7 linked regions of the Homo sapiens genome follow. The protein of the gene in region 3 purifies or fractionates together with the protein of the main gene of each other region. This does not show direct contact. Each region holds a gene or a part of one and is shown on either strand. Other genes may lie near its edges.

Region 1 (3,379 bases), on a different chromosome or scaffold from region 3:
AGATACTCCTTCAGTAATATAAATGGAAGCGTGTAGTATGCAGATTTACACCCCCCTTCCAACTCACTGTAACTTTAAAGCTGTCTGTTAGAAGGATGAAATGTAGTTGTGAGCCAGACCATGTTGGTTTGGACAGAAATTCTTACAGAATTATTAAGCCTTAAAAAAAGCAAAGGAGATTTATGCATCTGCATTTGACCAATTTGGTTTGGAATAAGTTCATAATGGAAAAGTAATAAAACCATAAGAGACAGTGTCTTCTGAGTACAGTCTCGCTTTTAAAAAATCTAAACATGCACTGCCCTATTTTGGATACAGTGACTGTAGAAAAATTTCCCATTGGTAACTTTGGGAGGGTTTTCTGTTGTTGTTGTTGTTCCTTTTTCATTGATTATCAGCCAGTATAAATTTTAAGCTTTCTGTCAAATATTTTTCTGGAGATGTCAGTCTTAGGGAAAAGAAATCCTAAAGTGTTATCTGTAGGAGTCTCCTTCTCCCAATTTCACCCCCTCCCCGAAACCTCCACCTCCCACCCCCCAACACACATAGTGTTTTTTAGATATCAGTAAAGTCTTTTTCTGGTGTAACTGGAGAGGTTGGGGTTTGGAGAGTAGGGGGTGGTTGAATGTGTGAGAGAAAGCACCTCCTGTGACTGCCAGCAGCCACAGAAGACCATGAAGAGGAAACGCATAACAAGCTTCACCTCTGAAAAATCGGACCTAATAACTTCGCAAGTTTTTGATTTCAACAGGAAAGAAAAAGAAAAGAAAACCGCTTTCTCCACTTATTCTCAACCACTTGAAGTAGTGTTATTGATAAACAATTTCTTAAAAATATTTAAAGATTTAGGAATAGAAACAAAGGAAATGAAGGCTGAGTGATTTGGGCAAGGGAAGGTGTGAGTCTGGTGGGGAGGGGTGTAGGAGCAGACATCTTGCACACAGGAGAGGCATGGTTGCATTTCCCATAGAGGACAGCAAAATAGGCATTTTATTGAATCGGATTTTTAACTTTCTTTCCACGGCCAGCAGTTCAAAGCACAGTTATTTTTATATAGTGAGAATGTGACCAGACTGAGATGGTGTTGTGTCTCTCCTGCAGGTATGCCTGCAGCATCTTTAGTGACCCCTGCTGATGTTATCAAGACGAGATTACAGGTGGCTGCCCGGGCTGGCCAAACCACTTACAGCGGAGTGATAGACTGCTTTAGAAAGATACTGCGTGAAGAAGGACCAAAAGCTCTGTGGAAGGGAGCTGGTGGTATGGAAATAATGTGTTCTTAACTAACTCTTTGGTATCAGGTAAATTTTTAAAATATCTAATTATATCTGTGATTTCTCCATTTTTTTAAAGCTCGTGTATTTCGATCCTCACCCCAGTTTGGTGTAACTTTGCTGACTTACGAATTGCTACAGCGATGGTTCTACATTGATTTTGGAGGAGTGTAAGTATCATGCTAAATCTGCTGCTAAATTTTGGCTGCTGCTAATGCTCTGTTGTCGTAGGGAAAGGTACCTCAGTCTAGTCTCTATAATAAAATAGAAGAGATTTAGGGAAATGTTGAAATTGTGTTAACAAGGTCATTTCCAAGGGGAACATACAACTGATGAGAATGTATCAACTCCTTTACATTAAATATTTGAACAGGTTTTGAATGTTATTTTTATCAAGTTAAAACAAACAAAAAATACAGCTTCTTACTCTGTTTTCTCTTCTTTTAGAAAACCCATGGGATCAGAGCCAGTTCCTAAATCCAGGATCAACCTGCCTGCCCCGAATCCTGATCACGTTGGGGGCTACAAACTGGCAGTTGCTACATTTGCAGGGATTGAAAACAAATTTGGACTTTACCTACCTCTCTTCAAGCCATCAGTATCTACCTCAAAGGCTATTGGTGGAGGCCCATAGGAAGATCAGCCCTGGGATAGTGCTGTCTTTTTGTGGGTACTGCAGTAAAGAACATCCCTCCTGGGAATGAAGCAATGCTTCATCCCTTTTACGTCCATCTCTTGTTTAAATTCAAGTCCAGGCTTTTTTATCATGTGAAATCATTCATTTTCTGGGTGTTTTCTTAACCAGATCATTGTGAAATTATTCATAATTATTATTTGGCCCTCTGCCCAGAAACCTTTGTTTGCATCTGAAAATTGATGGGATTTGGTCAACACTAACATGATTTGGGGAAAGGAGCAAGTCAGAATAGAAATTAGTACTCCCCTCCTTGAACTAGGATTGTAGTCCCAAAGAGGCTACTGTAAGGCAATCATGGTGCTCAGAGCAGTGTTTCGTGTGTGTTTTAAACTGGTAGGAAACTAGGTGCATATTTATAAAAATAAAAAACACTGGGAGAAATGAAAAAATATATATCAAATATATTCAGCCTGGCTTCAAATTGTAAGCATGCACAAATTCTGTCTCTGGATTATATTATGAAGCTTTTATGTGAAACATGTTTCTTTGTAATGAAAACCACATTGGAGATGTTTAGTAATCATATTGTTACTGGTACCAAGACTACTAGGGAAATGCCTTTGTACTTTAGGGAAGTACTTTTGGCATTTTACTGTACAGACAGAAAAAACTGAGATGTAGCCCCTCTCCTGGAAGTGCTAATTTTGAAAAACTGCTCATATGATGTACATGTACTGATTACTGCCTATTTTAATAAACACTCTTGAAAAATGCATGTTGCCCTGTTGCTGCCTGCCCTATTCTCCTCATCTCCCCATCATTGGTACCCACTTGCTTTTAAAATCCACTTTATCTTGAATAATGTAAGACAAATATGTTCTGACATAAGTATTTAATTCATGTTGCCTTGCATAATGGTCAGAGGCGCATGAATTTGTGAAGGTGGAAATAAACTATTTGTAAAGTGATTGAGTTGTTTGGTCTTGTGCATGTTGCATGGTGAGTGGATACAGTAATTGTCATTATTGGCCTACATGTTTTGTTTTGAGGGGAATTTTATTCATATTGGCATGGATATATCCTCAGTATCTTTCAAGGTAATGTGTTCCCTCATTTTCATGGTTCAAAGTGAGTACAAGAAACTGTATTTAACCATAGATAAGCAAAGAACTAGCAAACTGACACCTTAGTTCTAGTCATTCCAGCACTTTCGGCAGTTTATTGTGATGATGAAGGTCACATAGTTTTAGTAGAACTTAGCCATGAAAACTGGTATGAAATGGCAGTCGTATTTTCTAATCCAGTCTGACTCTTGCACACACCAAAACCATATACCACTGTATCTAACATTTGCTATTATTTGGCTAGCACTATAATGATTTGGGGAAAGAAGCTAGTCTTGAACAGGATTTAAGGCTATTCTTAGACCGTGATCATGCTTCCAAAGAGGCTACTAATTAATCTGTTG
Region 2 (3,989 bases), on a different chromosome or scaffold from region 3:
CAGCTACTCGAGAGGCTGAGGTGGGAGGGTTGCTTGAGTTCAGGAGGTGGAAGTTGCAGCGAGGTGACATTGTGCCACTGTACTCCAGCCTGGTCAACAGAGCGAGACCCTGTCTCAAAAAAAAAAAAAGGAAATTCACATTGTCTCAAATGTTTAAATTTTTCATGTTGTAATGGCGTGTTTTACACTTGGCAATATTGATAATACAGGCATACAGGAATCTTTCTTTGGTTATATTCATATATACATACATAGCCAAATCAATATTTCCATATTAATATGCAAAGTACAAGACATATCATTATGATTTTTCAGTATCATCAAGTACTATGACAAATTGTTTTTTCTTCCCTGAGACAGGATCTCACTCTTGCCCAGGGTGGAGTATGATGGCACAGTCATAGGTCACTACAGCCTCGAACTCCTAGGCTCCAGTGACCCTCCCACCTCAGCTTCCTGAATAGCTGGTACTACGGGCTTGTGCCACTGCATCCAGCTACTTTTTTTTTTTTTCAATAGAGTCAGAGTCTCGCTATGTTGCCTGGGCTGTTCTCAAACTCGGCCTCAAATGGATCCTCTTGCCTCAGCCTCCCAAAGTGTTGGGATTACAGGCAGAAGCCACATTGCCCAACTGTATAATAATTAACATACCCTTTTGGGAGTGGTAAAATGATAGTTAATAATACTACCTTCTAAAAAATGAAATACTTTGATTGCTGTCCAAAAGTGTGTCATTTCACCACAATAAGAAAACTTATGCTTTATTTAAACGGAATCAGACTGATCCAGTTCTCTTTTTCCCCCACACAGGTAGCTTTGGATATGTTAAATCCTCATGTTACTTTGCCTGTTTTTTACCCACATCTTAAGCATGGTGGTGTATGTGCTGTATATGTAGTAAAGTGAGTAATATAACTGTTTTTCTTTGTAATGTAACTTTTAAGTGCACTTTTGCTTAAGTATCAAACTAAATTTTTTTTTTTTTTTTTTTTTTTTTGAGACAGAAAAAAACTCTGTCACCCAGGTTGGAGTGTAGTGGTATGATCTCAGCTCACTGCAACCTCCACCTCCCCTGTTCAAGCAATTATCCTGCCTCAGCCTCCCAAGTAGCTGGGGTTACAGGCGCCCGCCACCACGCCCGGCTGATTTTTTCTATTTTTGGTAGAGAAGGGGTTTCACCATGTTGGCCAGGCTGGTCTTGAACTCCTGACTTCAGGTGATCTGCTCACCTGGTCTCCCAAGGTGCTGGGCTTACAGGCTTGAGCCACCACGCCCAGCCAAAATATTCATTTTGTAACTGAATAAAGTGTATATGGCATCTTATACAACTGTTTTAAAATGACAAGTCCCAAGTTCATTTATATTACTGTATATTTATTTAGTGTTTTTTTTTTTTAAACTTTTTTCGTTTTTTTTTTTTTTTTTTTTTTTGAGACAGAGTCTCGCTTTGTCACCCAGGCTGGGGTGCAGTGTCATGATCTCAGCTCGCTGCAACCTCCGCCTCCTGGGTTCAAGTGATTCTCCTGCCTCAGCCTCCTGAGTAGCTGGGATTACAGGTATGCGCCACCACACCCGGCTAATTTTTGTATTTTAGTGGAGACAGGGTTTCACCATGTTGGCCAGGCTGGTCTGGAACTCCTGACCTCAAGTGATCTGCCCCCCTCAGCCTCCCAAAGTGCTGGGATTACAGGCGTGACCCACGCCCAACCCTATATTACTGTTTAAATCATTTTTTACATAAATAGTAATATAAGATGCATATTTTCTTCTGACAATCTGGAAGAAATGTTTTAAAAGTATAATGTGAACAGTAATGTTAAATTATGGTCTCTGTGTTTGTTTACTTAGAATTTTGTGAAGGTACTTTTTATGCCTCCTAACTTGCATATTTAAACCCTCTCCTGCCTTAATTTAACTATGGTATTTAAATGTGGGCAAGAGGTATAGGGAACTTAAATAAATATAATGTTATTATTTTAGTAGAAATGTAAATTTTTCACTTTTCTGAAAGCATCACACAGGTTATTGAACTTTTAGATGGAATTCGCACCTGTGAACTTGCTCTTTCATGTGAAAAGATAAGCGAGGTCATTGTCAGAGATTGGTTGGTTTGCCTTGCAAAACAGAAAAATGGAATTTTAGCTCAAAAAGTAGAATCTAAAATCAACACAGATGTACAACTAGATTCTCAAGAGAAAATTGGAGTTAAAGGTGAGCTGTTTCAAGAGGATGACCATGGTGAGCTTCAGTTTTACTTTATGCATGCAGTAATGAATGGAGAATGAGTTCCTGAGTATACTGACCAATAGATTATAAAAATATTCCTCAGCAATTTTCTATAGAAAAGTGTGATATTTATTCTGTTAAGATGTATAAGGCACAGAATAATGACTTTTCCTGCCTTTTACTTAAAACTCTGATACCTTTGAAGAATTGAGCTTTTTATAATATTCATATTTTACTTGTCACAAGGAGCTTGGTTTGTGAAATAATTTAAATGTATTAAGGATGTTTTATATTTAGATCACTGATTATTAATGGGACCTGATAGGCAAATAGCTAATATTCCAAAAAGCAACTTCTAAGATGCTGCTGGAATTCTTGAAAGAACTGAGTTTAGGTCTTTGTCATATATACACATTATTTAGGCCATGAACAAGTTTTCAAGTATCAGTTGATTTATGATATAGGCTTATCCATTTGGTTATAAAATCATATGTTTATTACATAATCATTGACAAATAGTTTCTGTATAATAACTGGCAGAGTAGCTCTAAAACATATGCAAGGAAATAAATAAAGAAAAAACTTACAATAAAGAGAGTAACTCATATTTTAACAGTTTTGTGAAAAAAATAGAAAATATTTTATGTAGCTTATAGTACATATATTTTTTTACAACAGAAGAATCGCATTCTGATTTTCCATATGGATCATTTCCCTATGTTGCTAGACCAGTACACTGGCAACCTGGTCATACAGGTGAGTAATGTTTTCAGAACATATTAAATGGTGTTTTTTCTTTTAATTAATATAATGACTTTATGTTTTTCTTCTCTTAAATTAGCTTTTCTTGTCAAGTTGAGGAAGGTCAAACCACAACTTAACTGAGTACTCCAGATGACAGTAACTGACTTGAAGATGGAAAAATATCAAAATAGAACTTTATATTGAAAATCACTGCTTCCATAGATTGGCATTTTTAGCTATTACTATGACTTATATAACTTATACATATAATTTTGAAAATAACAACTAAAAGATGTATAACATAGCAAAACTGCTTAAACATCCCATTTTGACACTTGTCTTGCAGTTAGTTTGACATTTTGTAGTTAATGATTCCAAATTGGTTTAGTTGGGCCATCTCATTCTTCACTTCCTGTAAACCACTCCATAGATTTGTCTTTCTTCAAGAAATTAGTTTTCTTTCCTTTATTTGATTGATGGTCATTGACTACTGAAATAAAATATGCATTTTAAGATAAATTTTATGTATCTGTCCATTTTAAATACATCTTATAATGGCTTGTATATGTCTTAAAAAATAATAAGGAAATCTGGGCTACAGTAAATAATGGGGGGAAACTTAAGAATGATATAATCACCTTAAAAATTGTAACAAAAGATGTAACAGGCTCTTGAATCTCTTTTATCCCCTCAGAATCTTTTTAACCAGCTTGAAAGAACATTAGAATTATTCAGTGTTACTACACAAATTAAATGTTTGGGGGCTGGGCACAGTGGCTCACGCCTTTGGGAGGCCAAGGCAGGCAGATCACCTGAGGTCAGGAGTTCGAGACTAGTCTGGCCAACATGGCAAAACCTTGTCTCTACTAAAAATACAAAAATTAGCTGGTTGTGGTGGCGGGCACCTGTAATCCCAGCTACTTGGGAAGCTGAGGCAGGAGAATCGCTTAAACCTGGAAGGCGAAGGTTGCAGTGAGCTGCGACTGTGCCACTGCACTCCAGCCTGGGTGACAGGGCGA
Region 3 (4,283 bases):
TCACCTGAGGTCAGGAGTTCGAGACCAGCCTTACCAACATGGTGAAAGCCCATCTGTACTAAAAATACAAAAAAAATTAGCTGGGCATGGTGGCGCACGCCTGTAATTCCAGCTACTCGGGAGGCTGAGGCAGGAAAATAGCTTGAACCCAGGAGGCAGAGGTTGCAGTGAGCTGAGGCTGCACTACTGTACTCCAATCTTGGCAACAGAGTGAGACTCCATCTCAAAAAAATAAATAAAATGAGTGAAAATTTTTAATAATTGGCTATTCATGGCAACTGAGAAATAGATTTGGTGAAATATATGTTGAAACCACAATAGGACAGAGTTCTAGGATGGAAGAAGAAAATAATGCAATATACTTCAATTCAACTTAAAAGGCTTGGCTGTATAAGAGACAAGAGTTAGGGACCATTTAAAATTACAGCCAATAAGGTAGAACACTTCTATGAAACAGTACATATCAAAAACAATAGGGAAAATATAATACACAGTATCAGCTCTCTAGGTGCAACTGCTTAGAAATCTGTGTTCTTATTATAAGCTCTTTGGGAATAACGATACTGATTTTTTCAATAGTACCTGAACACATGGTAGGTTCTTAACATCTGTTGAACCAATGTAAAGTTTATTACTTTAGATCCTAAGAAATTCAAGACTTGAAATAAATAAGCACATTACCCATATGAAATTGTTTTGGTCATTTAATAATATATAATGTTTTGGCGGGGCGCGATGGCTCACGCCTGTAATCCCAGCACTTTGGGAGGCCGAGATGGGCGGATCACTTGAGGTCAGCAGTTCGAGACTAGCCTGGCCAACATGGTGAAACCCCGTCTCTACTGAAAATACAAAAAAATTAGCCAGGCATGGTGGCATGCACCACCCCTGGTAGTCCCAGCCACTTGGGAGGCTGAGGCAGGAGAATCGCTTGAACCTGGGAGGTGGCGGTTGCAGTGAGCTGAGATCGCGCCACTGCACTCCAGCCTAGATGACAGAGTGAGACTCCATCTCAAAAAAAAAAAAAATATATATATATATATGTATATATAGTCTTTTGCTTTATTTTTTTTTTTTTGAGGCGGAGTCTCACTCTGTCATCTAGGCTGGAGTGCAGTGGTGCGATCTCAGCTCACTGCAACCTCAGCCTCCCAGGCTCAAGCAATTCACGTTCCTCAGCCTCCTGAGTAGCTGGGATTTACAGGTGTGCACCATCACGCCCAGCTAATTTTTGTATGTTTAGTAGAGACAGGGTTTCACCATGTTGGCCAAACTGGTCTCAAACTCCTGACCTCAGGTCATCCACCTGCTTTGGCCTCCCAGAGTGCTGGGATTACAGACATGAGCCACCATGCCCGGCCTATTTTTGCTTTTTGTGATTGTGTATCCCTTTATATATTATATACTATAAATTCTGATAGTTTCTATTTTGTGAATCAGTAGCCATTTATAGTAGATGTAAATTCCATTAAAAGAATGCAAGTAAAAATATTCATATGTATCGATAATTCAAATTAGGTATTTTTCTCCCGTTATCATGCACGGATAAGCTGACACACTTGTTTATATGTCTCTATGACATTTTCTAGATAGTTTAGATTTGGCATGTGTTTTAATCTCTCCAGTAGCCACTAAACTGCTCTGAGACAAGTATCTGTATCTTATAATTTTTTTGTTTCAAGGAAAAAAAAAGACAAGTGCATTTGAGTTGGTAATTCCAAGAATGGCAGCAGAAGACAGAGCATCTAAAGCAGGAGGCTTGGACCAAAGTGGTTCTGTTGCCTGTAATCCCAGCACTTTGGGAGGCCAAGGCAGGAGGAACTCTTGAACCTGGAAGTTCAAGACCAGCCTGAGCAACATGGCGAGACGACCCCAAAACCCAATCGTCTCTACAAAAAAATTCAAAAATTAAAATAAATAAATAAAGTCGTTTTGTTAACCATTTCTGGGCCATGATAATCGGATGAAACTAAATCCTGAACTAATTTCCCGGGCGCTCTTGGGCTCTGGGCTAAGAACTCCTGAGAGTATGGTCAGTGGTCTGCTGCTGCCTGGAAGCTCCCGGTAAAGGAATGAAACTTCAGGGCAGACAGCATTCACTTCAGGAATGGTCAAGGAAAGCTAAATTCGATCTCACTAGACAGCAGCCCGTGTAAGGTTTGATCCCCTTGGAAGGCCCTTTCCTCTGCTAGAGCTGAAAGCCCTGTCTCCCTCGTTTTCTTTTGCTACGGGATCCAGAGAAAACACCAAAGGGCACTTACTGAGAAGCTGAAAAAAAAAAAAAAAAAAAGCAAACTGGAAAAGAGAAGACACAACAGCTCTGATGCGAGGGAGGCCTCGGCCCCGCCCCCTCCCGCCCCGGGAGAACCTTGGCCGAGCCTGCAGCGCCCGTAATCCCCACCGCACCTGCTGCGGGAGGGCCCGCGGCAGCTGTCTCGCTGAGGCTAGGGGGCGGGGGGCAAGGGCACGAAACGCAAGGACGTGCGGTGTCACTTTCTGCACGGGCTCTAAACAGATCGCAGCAATCCCGGTAGGTCCGGTACTGAAAGAGAATCACGCAATTTGCGCTGGGGGGCCTCAGACGCGGACCAACCCCCTCTTCGATCTGCCTTCTAAGGCCCGGAAATAAGTCTCAGCCTCGAGAACTAGAGCACTTCGACCAGGGAGTAGAGGAAGCGTTATTGGGCGTGGTACCCTGGGTTAGGAAACCTGGCTGTAGACCCACTCCAAGGACCGCACTCACCGAATTGCTGGGCTGAGGTGGGGGTTGAAAGCCGCTGTCAAGGCGTGACCCGGAAGCAGAAGCTGTCGGGGGCAGGCCCTCTGTTTACCGGACTAGAAGACCAACTAAGATGGGCGCCTGCGCACTGATGAGTGTTCGTCAGCGGGGCGCGCCTGCGCAGACTTGTGCAGCAGCTTTCGCCCTCCAGAGGCCTAGTTAGGGGGTTACTTTCTCCTTTTACTCAGAGGCTTTGCGCGCAGGCTCAGTGCAGCGTTCTCGGCCACAGCCGCAGGGTTCGGGTCTTGGTCCTGCAGCGGGGATAAAAAAGCTCAGGAACCCTGAGTGTTGGGCCGATTCTATATGGTTGCACCTGCGTGGACCAGGCCAGCAGGGGTCCATCCACAATGGTTCAGTTGCTTAGGAGACTAAACTCTTAGTAGGAAGTGTCTTTGACAAAAATACTTACAGCATTATTCATAATGGTGGAACGAATCTATGCTCCTTAGAACCCTCCTGTACATGTCCACCCTCCTTCAAGTAAACCATATCAAAGACAAACTCAACCACCCAAGAGGTGTAGTATTCTAAATGTAGAGGAATAAATGACCTTTATAACTCTTATTAGGGTTAATGAAACTTCCCGCACAAAAACATGATGACACCTCTGAGTGACAGACTTTCTGTGCAAAGCATAAACATTTTGAAGTCAGCAGCACATGGTGGTGGTGCATGGAAGGAGTGAAGCAGCAGCCCATTTAGGCAGACTGCAAGAGTTGTGGTCTGCCCGGTAGCCTGTTTAACCAGAGTGCCCCACACCTACTCCCCAGAGCTTGTTCTAAGCAACCAAATCTAACCAATTAGAGATTTAAAGCAGGCCCAGACAGATCATGTACATCAGTAAGAGGATGGTAAACTGAAAGTTCATGACCTGGTCTGAGGAGTGGGCCTCCTTTGAGCTCCAGACTCAAAGGAATTTTGCCAGGTAGGAATATGCCCTCCACTTCCTGCCACTGCACCATGGTGAGATCGTCCATTTTTCAAAAGAAGCTGAAATACAGATTTTTTTTAAAAAGTGAATTTTTCCAAGTTGCAAATGTTGGCAATGTTTTTATTATTATTATTATTATTATTATTATTATCATCATCATTATTTATTTTTGAGATGTAGTTTCGCTCTTCTCACCCAGGCTGGAGTGCAATGGCGTGATCTCGGCTGGCTGCAACCTCAGCCTTCCGGGTTCAAGTGATTCTCCTGCCTCAGCCTCCTGAGTAACTGAGACTACAGTCACCTGCCACCACACCTGGCTAATTTTTTTTTTGTATTTTTATTAGAGATGGGGTTTCACCATGTTGGCCAGGCTGGTCTCAAACTCCTGACCTCAGGTGATCCACCCTCCTCGGCCTCCCAAAGTGCTGGGATTACAGGCATGAGTCACCACACTGGACCACATCTCTCAAATTTCTTGGTTGGGAAATGCTGAAGTATATAAATTCTGGGAAACCATCAGCATCTTACAAATGTAAGAATGAGCGGAGTCTCCCAGGGAGTGATAAAATAGGC
Region 4 (3,500 bases), on a different chromosome or scaffold from region 3:
ATCCTGAGCACCACGATGGTGACGGTGCAGCAGCCACTGGAGCTGAACGGTGAGGACGAGCTGGTGTTCACGCTGGTGGAGGAGCTGACCATCAGCGGGGTCCTGGACAGCGGCCGCCCCACCAGCATCATCAGCTTCAACAGCGACTGCTCTGCACGGGCCCTGGCCTCGGGCTCGCGGCCCGTCAGCATCATCAGCAGCATCAGCGAGGACCTGGAGTGCTACTCCAGCACGGCCCCCGTCTCCGAGGTCAGCATCACACAGTTCTTGCCCCTCCCGAAGATGAGCCTGGATGAGAAGGCCCAGGACGCAGGGAGCAGACGCTCTTCCATCAGCTCCTGGCTGAGCGAGATGAGCGCGGGCAGTGAGGGTGAGCAGTCGTGCCACAGTTTCATAGCCCAGACGTGTTTTGGGCACGGGGAGGCAATGGCAGAACCTGTGGCCTCGGAGTTTGTCAGCAGCCTCCAGAACACCGCTGTGGTGTGCAGAGAGAAGCCCAAGGCCAGCCCCGACAACTTGCTCATCCTGTCTGAGATGGGAGATGACTCTTTCAACAAAGCAGCCCCCATCAAAGGCTGCAAAATATCCACAGTGAGCAAGGCCATGGTCACCATCTCCAACACGGCCAATCTGAGCAGCTGCGAGGGGTACATCCCCATGAAGACCAATATCACAGTTTACCCCTGCATTGCCATGAGCCCCCGGAACATCCAAGAGCCGGAGGCCCCCACCGCCACCCCCAAAGCAGGCCCCACATTAGCCCAGTCCCGGGAGAGTAAGGAAAACAGTGCAAAGAAAGAGATGAAATTTGAGGACCCGTGGCTGAAACGAGAAGAGGAAGTGAAAAAAGAGACGGCTCATCCCAATGAAGAAGGGATGATGAGGTGTGAGACTGCCACGGGCCCCTCGAATGCTGAGACCAGAGCAGAGCAGGAGCAGGACGGAAAGCCCAGTCCGGGAGACAGGCTCAGCAGCAGCAGCGGAGAGGTGTCGGCCTCCCCGGTCACTGACAACTTCAGGAGGGTCGTGGATGGGTGTGAGATGGCCCTGCCCGGTTTGGCCACCCAGAGCCCCGTGCATCCCAACAAAAGCGTCAAGTCCAGCAGCCTTCCCAGGGCCTTTCAGAAGGCCAGCCGGCAGGAGGAGCCGGACAGCCTCTCCTATTACTGCGCTGCTGAGACCAACGGGGTGGGTGCAGCCTCGGGCACCCCGCCCTCCAAGGCTACCCTGGAGGGGAAGGTGGCTTCCCCCAAGCACTGTGTTCTGGCTCGGCCCAAAGGGACTCCCCCTCTGCCCCCTGTCCGAAAGTCCAGCCTGGACCAGAAGAACCGGGCCAGCCCTCAGCACAGTGCCAGCGGCAGCGGCACCAGCAGCCCCCTGAACCAACCAGCCGCCTTCCCGGCGGGCCTCCCAGACGAGCCTAGCGGCAAGACGAAGGACGCCAGCAGCAGCAGCAAGCTCTTCAGTGCCAAGCTGGAGCAGCTGGCCAGCAGAAGCAACTCGCTGGGCAGGGCGACAGTCAGCCACTACGAATGCCTCTCCCTGGAGCGGGCCGAGAGCCTGTCCTCCGTGAGCTCCCGGCTGCACGCGGGCAAGGACGGCACCATGCCCCGCGCGGGGAGGAGCCTGGGCCGCAGCGCCGGGACCTCGCCCCCCAGCTCCGGGGCCTCGCCCAAGGCCGGCCAGTCCAAGATCTCCGCCGTGAGCAGACTCCTCCTGGCCAGCCCCAGAGCGCGCGGCCCGTCCGCCTCCACCACCAAAACCCTCAGCTTCTCCACCAAGTCCCTGCCGCAGGCGGTGGGCCAGGGCTCCAGCTCGCCCCCCGGTGGGAAGCACACGCCCTGGTCCACGCAGTCCCTCAGCAGGAACAGGAGCTCGGGCCTGGCCTCCAAGCTTCCCCTGCGGGCCGTCAGCGGGCGCATCTCGGAGCTGCTGCAGGGTGGCGCGGGCGCCCGGGGCTTGCAGCTGCGGGCCGGGCCCGAGGCGGAGGCGCGCGGGGGGGCCCTGGCCGAGGACGAGCCCGCGGCCGCGCACCTGCTCCCGTCGCCCTACAGCAAGATCACGCCCCCGCGGAGGCCCCACCGCTGCAGCAGCGGCCACGGCAGCGACAACAGCAGCGTGCTGAGCGGGGAGCTCCCGCCGGCCATGGGGAAGACGGCCCTGTTCTACCACAGCGGCGGCAGCAGCGGCTACGAGAGCGTGATGCGGGACAGCGAGGCCACCGGCAGCGCGTCCTCGGCGCAGGACTCCACGAGCGAGAACAGCAGCTCCGTGGGCGGCAGGTGCCGGAGCCTCAAGACCCCGAAGAAACGCTCCAATCCAGGTAGGCGGCTGGGCGCAGGGACGCGGGTGAGGAGGGCGGCAGGTGGGCGAGCTGCCCAAACCCCACTGCCAGGGTGTCCCGTGCCCTGGGGAGGGGGCGTCCAGGCCTGGCCTCTCCTTGCAGGTGGGCGAACTGCCCAAACCCCACTGCCAGGGTGTCCCGTGCCCTGGGGAGGGGGCGTCCAGGCCTGGCCTCTCCTTTCCCACGGCCCGGCACCCCGCGGGGCTCCGCCGGGGACATCACCGCGGAGGGTTTCTCTGTGAGAAACTGCCCTACTGCGTGCCGTCATCAGGCTTAGGGCCGTGAATCCCTTGGCGCTCAGCAGGGTGGAAAGGCGAGGGCCCGGATGCAGGTGGCAGCATGACCCGCACCTGCTCGCTCTGGGGGCAGCCTGGCTCTTCGCCGTCCATTCCCTCACCCCTGCCCCTCTGTTCAACAACCAAGGATCCTGTGGACGGTTTACAGCCTGTTGAGGGATCAGGTGAGGGTACCTACCCTCATGACCTGGTGGCTTCAGAAGCCCCTCCTGTGAGGTTGGTGGCCTGCAAGACCCTGGCAGCCTCTCTCAGGGATGTGGGATAACGCACAGATTGTCCCATTGAAAGTGGAATGGCGAGGCCCTTCCTCCACCTCCACCCCAAACATATTTGTGGACAGTCATGTTTGCACACCTGCCACAGGGCCTGCAGTGCCCCCCGCCACACACACCATGATGCCTGAAATGCGTGATTTTGGAGAAAGTCTTTGCCATTTCTTTTTTTCCTTTTTTTGAGACAGTCTTACTCTATCGCCCAGGCTGGAGTGCAATGGCGTGATCTTGCCAAACTGCAACCTCTGCTTCCTATGTTCAAGTGATTCTCCTGCTTCAGCCTCCTGAGTAGCTGGGATTACAAGCGTGCACCACCGTGCCTGGCTAATTTTTCTATCTTTGGTAGAGACAAGGTTTTACCATGTTGACCAGGCTGGTCTCGAACTCCTGACCTCAAGTGATCCGCCCGTCTCAGCCTCCCAAAGTGCTGGGATTACAGGCGTGAGCCACCACACCCAGTCAGTCTTTGTCATTTTTAAGAATCTCCTATCAAAAGGCACGTACTCCAGAATAATTAATATATAAAGCCCACAGACTTGTTAATTGGAGTCTTGGGTGGCACATGACAGTAAGTTATGATGGGCAAGG
Region 5 (3,500 bases), on a different chromosome or scaffold from region 3:
CCCGGCTAATTTTGAAAAAATATTTTACAGAGATGAATTCTTGTTGTGTAGCCCAGACTGGTCTGGAATTCCTGGGCTCAAGTGATCTGCCTGCCTTGGCCTGCCAAAGTGCTGGGATTAAAGGCGTAAGCCACTGTGCCTAGCCCAAAATAATTCTTTGTGAGCTATAATTTGGGACTTTTGAGGTAGTGACTGCTTTGAAATATAATTATGGAAGTCTAGGGAAGTTTAAAATTAGCTTTTTGTTGTTGTTGTTCTTCATTTTGTTTTGAGACGTGGTCTTGCTCTGTTGCCCAGGCTGGAGTGCAGTGGTGCCATCTTGGCTCACTGCAGCCTCTGGATCCTAGGCTCAAGTGATCTTCCTGCCTCAGCCTCTTGAGTAGCTGGGACTACAAGTGTGTGCCACCATGCTGGACTAATTTTTAATTTTTTTGGTAGAGATGAGGTCTTGCTACATTGCCCAGGCTGGTCTTGAACTCCTGGCCTCAAGTGATCCTCCTGCTTTGGTCTTCCAAAGTGCTGGGATTATGGGCATGAGCCACTGTGCCTGGACTAAAATTCTATTTTATTTTATTTTATTTTTAAAGAGATGAGGTCTCACTATGTTGCCCAGGCAGATCTTGAACTCCTGAGCTCAAGTGTTCCTCCTGCCTCTGCCTCCCAAAGTGGTAGGATTATAGACGTGAGCCACCATGCCTGGGCTAAAATTATCTTTGATCCTTAGGTATGATATATCTTTTAATTTCTTGCTAAAAAATCTATCACATGAATAAAGATACAAAAACTGCCTAGAAAGACTGCCTAGCTAAATAGGAAAGCCCTCTAAATTAATCAGTTCAGATACAAGCCAATGAGAAGTTTAAACAACCTTAACAAAAATAAAAAGATTTTTATGTCAGAGGCAGGAAAGGAGCTTAAGAATTTTGAAGACCATTTGGTCCTCTTTGGTGCAATAGGGTAATAAAAATAAAAACCAAGATAATAATTTACTTCACACCCTCTCTCACTGTGTTGCCCAGGCTTGTTTCAAACTCCTGGGCTCAAGCAATCTTCCTGCCACAGCCTCCCAAAGTGCTGCAATTACAGACATGAGCTACTGCACCCAGCCCCCTGCTCTTTTATAAATGCAGAGGATATTAAAGACTTCATTGTCAAGTTATACATTATCATAGAAGCTAAAAATCACAAGATTTTTGAAAGTGTTAAGGTTGAATTTAAAGATCTTTTGTCTAGATAGCATAATTGTTTCAAATTCTTACTATCAGATAATTATTGAGTTGCTATTTGAGTCACCATATTGTGGAGGAGTATATATATTATCCCTGTCAAAATAAGCTGGTGTCACGTAGCTACTACTTATTAAAGTAGTAGGAATGTTGAAGAGCTAAAAATGAAGTAATTTGTATGGGGTAGGTTTTCTTTCCGGAAAAAAATGAATTATTTCTTATCAATTACTTAGAGATCATTTTGGGAGGGTGGTGAGGGAGAATATTAAGTGGTAGATGCAGTAAGTATCAAAACACTTAAACTACATTAACTCTGTTTATTCTCACAGAAACCCTCTGAGGTGGGAACCATAATTATCTGCATTTTATAGATTATAGAAGGTCACAGAACAAGTTAAAGGGGAAGCTGGAATTTAAGCCTAGCCAGTATTGTTCTAGATTCTGCACATTTAACCTGATACTCTATTGCTAAGCTTAAGGAGATAGATTTGCCATATAAAATGATTCTTAATAGTGGTTTTCTTTCCCCACAGGTGTAGATTTGGAAAATGGTACTTGCAGTCATCCATTAATTCCTGATAAAGCCTCTCCTCTTTTACCTGCAAATCATGTGACCATGGCAAAAGGAACGGGATTGGTTCACACAGCCCCAGCTCATGGTATGGAAGACTACGGTGTAGCGTCTCAGCACAACCTGCCCATGGTACTGTTCCTCTTTTATCATTTTTAATTATTCATCTTAATAAAAGGAAATGATAAATTCTAACCAACATCTTCATTTTTTAAAAATGATGACTTTTGTCATCATAATTGTGAAATGCTCAGGTTTGTGTAGTACTCTAAAGTTTCATTAATTCGTACTAATTGAAAAAGATTTCCCAGAATTAATAGAAAATTAGCACTTTAGAATTGAAGAATATATATCATGGGGCACTTTTAAAATACTTTTTTTCTAGTATCAAGTCACATAGACAAATTACTTTTATTCCCTGAAAAAGCCTGTTTGTTTTAGCTAAACAGTCCTTTCTACATTTACTTTACATACTTCAGTTACTTAGCAAGTATTTCCGTTTAGTTAAAAGGTGAGTCAGAAAGGGAACAACTGTGTATATAGGCATAGATTTGGAAACAATAGAGACCACTCAAAGATGTTTTAATATATTTTGTTACTTTTGTTATTAAAGTTTATGGATATGCTTCAATAACACATTTTGGCTTTGGTGATTTAAATGTATAAAATTCACAAATTCCTATTTCCTTTTCTTTTCTTTTCTTTTTTTTTTTTTTTGAGAGGGAGTCTTGCTCTGTCGCCCAGGCTGGAGTGCAGTGGTGTGGTATGATCTCGGCTCACTGCAACCTCTACCTCCAGGGTTCAAGCGATTCTCCTGCCTCAGCCTCCCGAGTAGCTGGGACTACAGGTGCACACCACCATGCCTGGCTAATTTTTGTATTTTTAGTGGAAGTGGGTTTCACCATGTTGGCCAGGCTAGTCTCAAATTCCTGACCTCAAGTGATCTGCCCACCTCGACCTCCCAAAGTGCTGGGATTATAGGCCTGAGTGCCGCGCCCGGCCAAGTACCTAGAATTTCAATGTAGAAAAAGACCAGGCTATACTGAGATGTTTTTATATATATTGTTTTGCCAGATATTGTCATAAGAGAAAATGTCTTGATATTTTAATTGTTCAAAATGATACTTTATAGGATTGTCTAGTGGACGAAGATGGAGTTTTCACAGATGTTGCAGGTCCTGAACTTCAAAACAAGGCTGTCCTTGAAGAGGGAACTGATGTGGGTGAGCATCATATCTGTTGATATCATACATGTTTTCTGAAAAGTAGGTAGCAGTAACCTTTGCTACCTATTTTCCCTCCTTATACTTTAACAGAAACAAAAAAATAAATTATGTCTTGTTTTGCCATATGTTTTAAAATGGAGTTTGGGACTTTTTCATCTTTTGCTTTGAAGCTGCTTTATTTAAGCAAGTCAGGGCAGTCAACAGGGAGTGAAGTTATTTTAGGGCTATGGAGATAATAATCAGCAGTATTACTTTTGTGGAAGGATACAATCAAGATCAGGGCTGGATGTTGACTGTAAATTACACATTCCCTACTCACTTTTTAACCCTTGTAAATAACTGACCTATATGGCATGATTTATGTATTAGAATCTTGGGAATCCTCCAGCCTTGAATTGTCTTTCTGTCTTCCTTTACAGATTCAGAGACCAAGTGCTATGAAAACCTTTCTTTGCCCACACTAAGACTAAGGCTATT
Region 6 (3,500 bases), on a different chromosome or scaffold from region 3:
GACAGTAAACCCCTGGTAACAACAGTACAATCACAGTACGATCAGTGGTTATTAGGGGTTGGAGGACAGAGAGATGAATAGGTGGAGCACAGAGGATTTTTTAGGGCCATGAAACTATTTTGTATGGTACTATAATGACATATGGATACATATCATTATACATCTGTCAAAATCCATAAAACATACAATACCAAGAGTAAACCTTAATGTGAACTATGAACTTTGGGAGATAATGATGTGTCAATGTAGGTTCATCAATTGTAACAAATGTACCACTCCTGTGGGATGTTGATAATGAGGGAGGTTGTACAGGGGGGAAGGGTATGTATGAAAAATATCTGTACCTTCTACTCAATATTGCTATAAATTTAAAACCACTCTAAAAAATAGTCTTTTAGATTTTTTAAAAAAATGGAAACAGGCGGGTGCGGTGGCTCACGCCTGTAAACCCCACACTTTGGGAGGCTGAGGCAGGTGGATCACTTGAGGTCAGGAGTTGAAGACCAGCCTGGCCAACGTGGTGAAACCCTGTCTGTACTAAAAATACAAAAATTAGCCAGGTGTGGTGGTGCATGCCTATAGTCCCATCTACTCGGGAGGCTGAGGCAGGAGAATCGATTGAACCTGGGAGGTGGAAGCTGCAGTGAGCCGTGATTGCACCACTGCACTCCAACCTGGGTGACAGAGCGCGAGTCTCTTAAAGCAAAACAAAACAAAACACGAAAACCCAGTGACCTGAATTATTCATTTTCAGTCAATTTGACATCATGATTAAAACAACACTGCAATCAATTTGTTTTCAACAAGTTACCTGGGGGTAAAGGTCAACCTCAATCACTGTTAACAATCAATATAATTCACTGATATTAGTTCCTTATTTCTTTTCTGATTCACTATAAAAGATATTAATAGGCTGGGCTCACGCCTGTAATCCCAGCACTTTGGGAGGCCAAGGTGGGTGGATCACGAGATCAAGAGATCGAGACCATCCTGGCCAACACGGTGAAACCCCGTCTCTACTAAAAATACAAAAATTAGCTGGGTGTGGTGGTGTGCGCCTGTAGTCCCAGCTACTCAGGAGGCTGTGGCAGGAGAATCGCTTGAACCCGGGAGGCGGAGGTGGCAGTGAGTGGAGATAGCGCCACTGCACTACAGCCTACAGCCTGGTGACAGAGTGAGACTCTGTCTCAAAAAAAAAAAAAAAAGATATTAACAAATGACAAAATAGCACAAAAACAGCAAGTGAATGAGCTGCAAATTTACTGTTTCTCTCAAAAACTGATCACATGCTATTTTTGTTCTTTGATAGCCTCTGAAGGAAACTGAGTAGAACTGGAATGAACAAGGTTCTTTGACAGTTTATTGTCCCAAAAGCCTAACCTTATGAACTGTTCAGAAGTGGAATATGGCTGAATTCCAACATTCACACATTTCCAAATCTCAGCTAACTGTTAGTTCCATGAACTTTCACAAAAAACACATCTATCTGTGTAATCACTATCATGATCAGGAAAGAGAACAGTACTGAAATCCTAGAAATCGGATTCTTTCTCTCTTCCAATCTCTACCCCCACCTCTTCAAGGTAACTATTATCCTGATTTCTATCACCATAGATTGATTTTACCTAGTTTTGACCTTTATACAATGGAATCATATAATAAAGACGGATAAAATAATGTTGTTTTGCCTCTCCCAGTTGTATCTATGATCTACTGGAAGATTTTGTGATTTTACAAATATATATATATATATACACATTTTTTTTTTTTTTTTTTGAGACAGAGTCTCACTCTGTCGCCCGGGCTGAAGAGTGGTGGCACGCTCTCGGATCACTGCAGCTTCTACTTCCCAGGTCCAAGCGATTCTCGTGCCTCAGCCGCCCAAGTAGCTGGGATTACAGGTGTCCACCGCCACGCCCGGCTAATTTTTATATTTTTTTAGTAGAGATAGGGTTTCGACATATTGACCAGGCTGGTCTCAGACTCCTGGCCTCAAGTGGTCTGCCCACCTTGGCCTCCCGAAATGCTGGGATTACAGGCGTGAACCACTGCACCCGTCCAATTTTGTGCTATATTTGAATTTAATGCTACATGTCAAGTTCTTGTCTTATTGAGCCTGGGCACATGCTAAGGTGCCTTCTGTTTTCTAGAGGTAAGTCTTGGCCTGCCTTGGAAAGGACCAATATATGCCACAGTGACAGACAGAACACACATAACATAAATCATCCATTTGGGAGGATATGTGTGTGAGGTATGAGAGAAAGTATCAGTGAAGCTGTTATGAATCAAATGTTTCTGATCTACAAAAATAGTGAACTTATATGGTTTGACTTTATACGATGTAGAACATACCAAGGAAAGAAGAAAGTTCAAGAAGGTGTTCATACCTGAGAAGTTCTTTCTTATTGATCAAAGCTTTCATATATTCTGAAAGTTTCTTTTGCATTAATGCCAAACGAAGCCAGGCTCTTCCTCTACCTACTGGTGTCCTACAAAAACACAGAAATCAAACAACTGAAAACATAAGCACCAGAAGCAAAGGCTACAGTAGAATCAGTTCACTTATTCTTGCTAATGGTATTCCAGTGTAACAAGCACACTGAGGTGCTCCTCAGGACCTCTCCCAGTACATTCCCATGCAAGGAATTTTTGTGTGTGGGCTAATGTGACCCGGAACAAATGCTTTCAAAAAGAATTACTGAATGTAACTACAATTTGAAGACACAGCCTCTGGGAGACCCAACTAAAAATGTTCCATCAGATCAATAATAGCAAATCCTTATAAATTCAGTGTGGATTATATAAATGTCCAAAGCATGAATGTGGACACAGGCAATCTAGGCCTCTGTCTGATTAAAATTAAACCAGTCTCATTTGGGAAGGTGGTCACTACTTTATAGTTCTAAGGCAGGCTACAGTCACTAGCTCTTCAGGTTAATTTGACAGCTGTTTTAATCTTGACTCTCAAACCCACTGAATACCTTTTTTCCCTAAGTCAAGTACAGCATGCCACCCCCTTAGATATGATTCTCCCAAGTGCTTTAAAAAATAAGCAAATGTTTGGCATTTCAACAAAAAGACAATCTCTCTTAGATGAATAATTATCCCTCAAGAGCACATTTTTCTCAATATTCTGTATACCAATTCTCTCCTGTCAGCACCTATTCATGACATCATGCATTTTGGATTGTTATAAAATAAATTATTCGTACATAATTGTCTTTAGTCTTGCTCTTCAAGGGATAGTTAATAAGAATGCTGTTCCTGAGAAATGGAATTCAACCTTAGACTTACTTAAGTCCTGGAAGATCTTTAACACTTGCTGTTATCTCTGCGGCTTCTGGAACAAGCTTTTCTACCAGTTCTAGAGGCCCCCAGAAGGATTTATTTTGTCCGAGAAAAGTTTTTTTAGCTAAGGCAACAAAAATAAAGCAGTATTTTAATATTCTTTACAACATAAGCGCACTCTCAATACACACACACATACACACACAACTTTT
Region 7 (3,462 bases), on a different chromosome or scaffold from region 3:
GTGGGGGTCTTTGGGAGTCATGAGGCCTCATGGATGGGATCAGTGCCCTTACAGAAAGGACTCCAGAGAGCACCCTGGCCTCATCCATCATCTGAGGACACACAGGGAGAAGGCGCCATCTAGAAGCCAGGAACTGGGTACTCACCAGAGACTGAATCTACCATACCTTGGTTTTCTGGGACCTCCAGCCTCCAGAGCTGAGACATGAGATCATACAAATGCTCTCAGAGAGGGTACAGTAAGTGCAGGTGCCCTGGGGTCCTCCAGCATTTATCAGGGAGCCCGGCTACACTTCTGCCAGCCTTGGTTTCTACCCCCCGCCTCTTCCCAGCTGTGACCCTGCCCTCTGTGCCCCAGGGGTGCTGGGGAGGAGGCAGCACTGCAGACCAGGAACGTGGGCCAGCCACGGGCAGAGCGTGGCCCCATCTGCGTCCCGTGGGCCCAGCGCCCATCTCCAGACCCCAGGCCGCCCTGTGGAGAGGTGCGTGGCCAGGCAGGAGGACCTCTGCGTCCTCTGTTTATTGTTTTGCAGCAGGAGGCCCAACATAGAACATACTCGCCAGTACTCGGCTGTGCAAAACAGGGGCTAGCGCTGAAGTACAAATGGGAAAACGTGATTCTTTTGTTTTAAATAAATACTTAGAACACGACTTGGCTCCTACAAGCATCTGGACTCTAGGTCTCAGTACTGGAGTGTCTCACCCATGGGCCCCACGCAGGGACGCCACGGTTCCCTCCCACCCCGTGATCAAGACACGGAATCGGCTGCCGATGGTTGGATCGCAATGCGCCCCTTTTCTAGAGCCTTCCCCGGCCATCTACAGGCAGGATGCGGCTGGGAAAAAGACAACTGGAATTTCTCGAAGGTTGATGGTCCGCACGGTTGAGGATTCTACGTGGTTCTCTTGGTTCCCCTGGTGTGTGTGTGTGTGTGGAGGAGGCCGCGGCCCTTAGATCACCTTCTTGAGCTCGTCGTACAGGACCAGCACGAAGGCGCCCCCCATGCCCCGCAGGACGTTGGACCACGCACCCTTGAAGAAGGCCTTGCCCCCCTCATCTCTGAAGATCTTCCTCCAACAGTCGACGGTGCCCGTGTACATGATGTCAGCTGCAACGACAGGGAGACAGTGAGGGCCTCGCCGCCAAGCTCTTCAAGACACGGACGCCACCTGCACCCACAAAGACGTTTCACAGAAATAACACCCCAGACGCCTGAGCCACAGTTCTGATTACAGGAGGGATACCTGAGGCTCCCCCAGCTCAAGCCCTCCTCCTAAGCCACTGTCTCAGGGAGGGCTGGACACAGGACTTCAGGCCCCGCCCTGGGTGTCCCCCATCTCCACCCCGGGGTCCATGCAGAGAAGGCAGGATCGAGGGTGTGGGTGCAACCAGAGGTTCTAGGAGGCGGGGATTTAGAAACTGCCGCCCGGACCATGAAACCCCAAAAAGATCAGAAGCCCATCGTTCAGGAAAATCCTTCCACACAGCCAGGTTACTTTCGGACACACTTGCTTGTCTCACACGCCCTGGAAGTGCCTCCTTTGATGGTTCCTGACCTCCCACGGGCCTAGGGCAAGGAGCTTGGTTCCCCTTCCCGGCAGCAAGGGTCCCCCGCCCCCCCGAGTACCTCCTTTGCGCCCGGACTGCATCATCATGCGCCGCCGCACCGTGTCGAAGGGGTAGGACACCACGCCGGCCACGGCCGTCACGGTCTGCGCGATCATCCAGCTCACCACGATGTGCGTGTTCTTGGGGTCGGGGAGCATGCCTGCGCGGGAACGGCACGTCACCGTCTCCAGCGCCTGCACGGCCACCCGAGACCAGGGTCGGCCCCCAGGGTGTGCTCACGGCCCCCTGAGGTGGTGCCGAGCTCTTCCGAGACCACCAGTGCCCCCTCCACGTGGCTGCTCAGTGCCAGCTGACGTTTACAACACGAGAGGTCGGGGCAGGGCCAGAGGGGAAAAGGCCGCCTGCCACCTACCGGAGCCCAGCAAGACAGTCCCAGAGGCCGGGGTTAGGCCTGTTTGGGGAAGGGAATAGGGCCCTGACCTTCTGAAGGGTCACCGTTACTATGGGAGTTACACTCTGTCCTCAAAATCCACATGCTGAAGTCCCACCCCCACCCCAGGACCTCAGGATGCAACTGTACTTGGATATAAGGTCTTGAAAGAGGTAAGACTAAAGGAGGCCAGTAGGGTGGGCCCTGATCCTACGACCCCAGTGTCCTTCTAAAAAGAGATGAGGACACAGACACACGGAGGGATGACCCTGTGAGGACACAGGGAGAAGACGGTGTCTACAAGCCAAAAAGAGAGGCCTCAGAAGGAACCAGCCCTGCCCACTCCTTGATGTCAGACTTCCAGCCTCCAGGACTCCGGGAGAATCAATGTCTGCTGTTTATAAGCCACCCAGTCTATAGTATTGTTTTAGGAGCCTGAAATGGACTAAGACACCTCATAAGAAGAGCAGATAAGGACACAGACACACACAGAGGGATGACCCTGTGAGGACACAGGGAGAAGACGGCGTCTACAAGCCCAGGAGAGAGGCCTCAGGAGGAACCAGCCCTGCCCCACACCTTGATCTCAGACTTCCAGACTCCAGGATTATGGAAGAATCAATGTCTGTTGTTTACAGTCCACCCACTCTATGGTATTCTGTGATAGCAGCCTCAAATGGACTAAGACATCTCATCAGAAGAGGACACGAGGACACAGACACACACAGAGGGACGACCCTGTGAGGACACAGGGAAGACGGAGTCTCCAAGCCCAGGAGAGAGGCCTCAGGAGGAACCAGCCCTGCCCACACCTGGATCTCAGACTTCCAGCCTCCAGGACTGTGGGAGAATCAATGTCTGTTGTTTCTAAGTCACCCAGTCTATGGTGTTCTGGGATGGCAGCCTGAAATGGACTAAGACATCTCATAACAAGAGATGAGGACACAGACACACACACAGGAAAAAGCCTGAGAAGACAGCATCTCCAAGCCCAGGAGAGAGGCCTCAGGAGGAACCAGCCCTGCCCATGCCTTGGTCTCAGACCTTCAGCCTGCAGGACTGTGGGAGAATCAATGTCTGCTGTTTACAATCCACCCAGTCTATGGTATTCTGTGATAGCAGCCTGAAATGGATTAAGACATCTCATAACAAGAGGAGATGAGGACACAGACACACACAGAGGGACGACCCCGTGAGGGCACAGGGAGAAGACGGCATCTACAAGCCTAGGAGAGAGGCCGCAGGAGGAACCAGCCCTGCCCACACCTGGATCTCAGACCTCCAGCCTCCAGGACTGTAGGAAAATCAATGTCTGTTGTTTATAGTCACCCAGTCTATGGTATTCTGTGATAGCAGCCTGAAATGGATTAAGACATCCCATAAGAAGAGAGGATGAGGACACAGACACACACAGAGGGATGATGCTGTGAGGGCACAGGGAGAAGACGGCGTCTCCAAGTCCA

Evidence for each region.
Region 1: the proteins of ASB8 (region 3) and SLC25A13 purify together in Homo sapiens (affinity purification with mass spectrometry, with the first as the bait; one large-scale study listed by BioGRID). This does not show direct contact.
Region 2: the proteins of ASB8 (region 3) and TRMT61B purify together in Homo sapiens (affinity purification with mass spectrometry; one large-scale study listed by BioGRID and IntAct). This does not show direct contact.
Region 4: the proteins of ASB8 (region 3) and KIF26B purify together in Homo sapiens (affinity purification with mass spectrometry, with the first as the bait; one large-scale study listed by BioGRID). This does not show direct contact.
Region 5: the proteins of ASB8 (region 3) and IARS2 purify together in Homo sapiens (affinity purification with mass spectrometry; 2 studies listed by BioGRID and IntAct, with this or other methods). This does not show direct contact.
Region 6: the proteins of ASB8 (region 3) and RUFY3 purify together in Homo sapiens (affinity purification with mass spectrometry; one large-scale study listed by BioGRID and IntAct). This does not show direct contact.
Region 7: the proteins of ASB8 (region 3) and SLC25A6 purify together in Homo sapiens (affinity purification with mass spectrometry, with the first as the bait; one large-scale study listed by BioGRID). This does not show direct contact.

The regions. Positions count from the first base shown.
Region 1 is NC_000007.14:96,119,720-96,123,098, reverse strand, and holds the end of SLC25A13 (electrogenic aspartate/glutamate antiporter SLC25A13, mitochondrial), read left to right. Parts: intron 1-1,101; coding exon 1,102-1,260; intron 1,261-1,353; coding exon 1,354-1,444; intron 1,445-1,721; coding exon 1,722-1,908; 3' UTR 1,909-2,879; downstream 2,880-3,379. UniProt on the Homo sapiens protein: Mitochondrial electrogenic aspartate/glutamate antiporter that favors efflux of aspartate and entry of glutamate and proton within the mitochondria as part of the malate-aspartate shuttle.
Region 2 is NC_000002.12:28,849,321-28,853,309, reverse strand, and holds the end of TRMT61B (tRNA (adenine(58)-N(1))-methyltransferase, mitochondrial precursor), read left to right. Parts: intron 1-810; coding exon 811-902; intron 903-2,011; coding exon 2,012-2,238; intron 2,239-2,699; exon of another isoform or gene 2,700-2,904; coding exon 2,905-2,982; exon of another isoform or gene 2,983-3,067; coding exon 3,068-3,111; 3' UTR 3,112-3,368; coding exon of another isoform or gene 3,369-3,460; 3' UTR 3,461-3,489; downstream 3,490-3,989. Other genes in the region: SPDYA (speedy protein A), read right to left, coding at 3,369-3,460.
Region 3 is NC_000012.12:48,154,716-48,158,998, forward strand, and holds the start of ASB8 (ankyrin repeat and SOCS box protein 8), read right to left. Parts: upstream 2,801-4,283; 5' UTR 2,744-2,800; intron 2,543-2,743; exon of another isoform or gene 2,407-2,542; intron 1-2,406. UniProt on the Homo sapiens protein: May be a substrate-recognition component of a SCF-like ECS (Elongin-Cullin-SOCS-box protein) E3 ubiquitin-protein ligase complex which mediates the ubiquitination and subsequent proteasomal degradation of target proteins.
Region 4 is NC_000001.11:245,686,485-245,689,984, forward strand, and holds part of KIF26B (kinesin-like protein KIF26B), read left to right. Parts: coding exon 1-2,323; intron 2,324-3,500. UniProt on the Homo sapiens protein: Essential for embryonic kidney development. Plays an important role in the compact adhesion between mesenchymal cells adjacent to the ureteric buds, possibly by interacting with MYH10.
Region 5 is NC_000001.11:220,104,132-220,107,631, forward strand, and holds part of IARS2 (isoleucine--tRNA ligase, mitochondrial precursor), read left to right. Parts: intron 1-1,759; coding exon 1,760-1,929; intron 1,930-2,929; coding exon 2,930-3,020; intron 3,021-3,500.
Region 6 is NC_000004.12:70,763,464-70,766,963, reverse strand, and holds part of RUFY3 (protein RUFY3), read right to left. Parts: intron 3,413-3,500; coding exon 3,295-3,412; intron 2,490-3,294; coding exon 2,388-2,489; intron 1-2,387. UniProt on the Homo sapiens protein: ARL8 effector that promotes the coupling of endolysosomes to dynein-dynactin for retrograde transport along microtubules. Acts by binding both GTP-bound ARL8 and dynein-dynactin.
Region 7 is NC_000023.11:1,385,652-1,389,113, forward strand, and holds the end of SLC25A6 (ADP/ATP translocase 3), read right to left. Parts: intron 1,769-3,462; coding exon 1,628-1,768; intron 1,109-1,627; coding exon 951-1,108; 3' UTR 501-950; downstream 1-500. UniProt on the Homo sapiens protein: ADP:ATP antiporter that mediates import of ADP into the mitochondrial matrix for ATP synthesis, and export of ATP out to fuel the cell.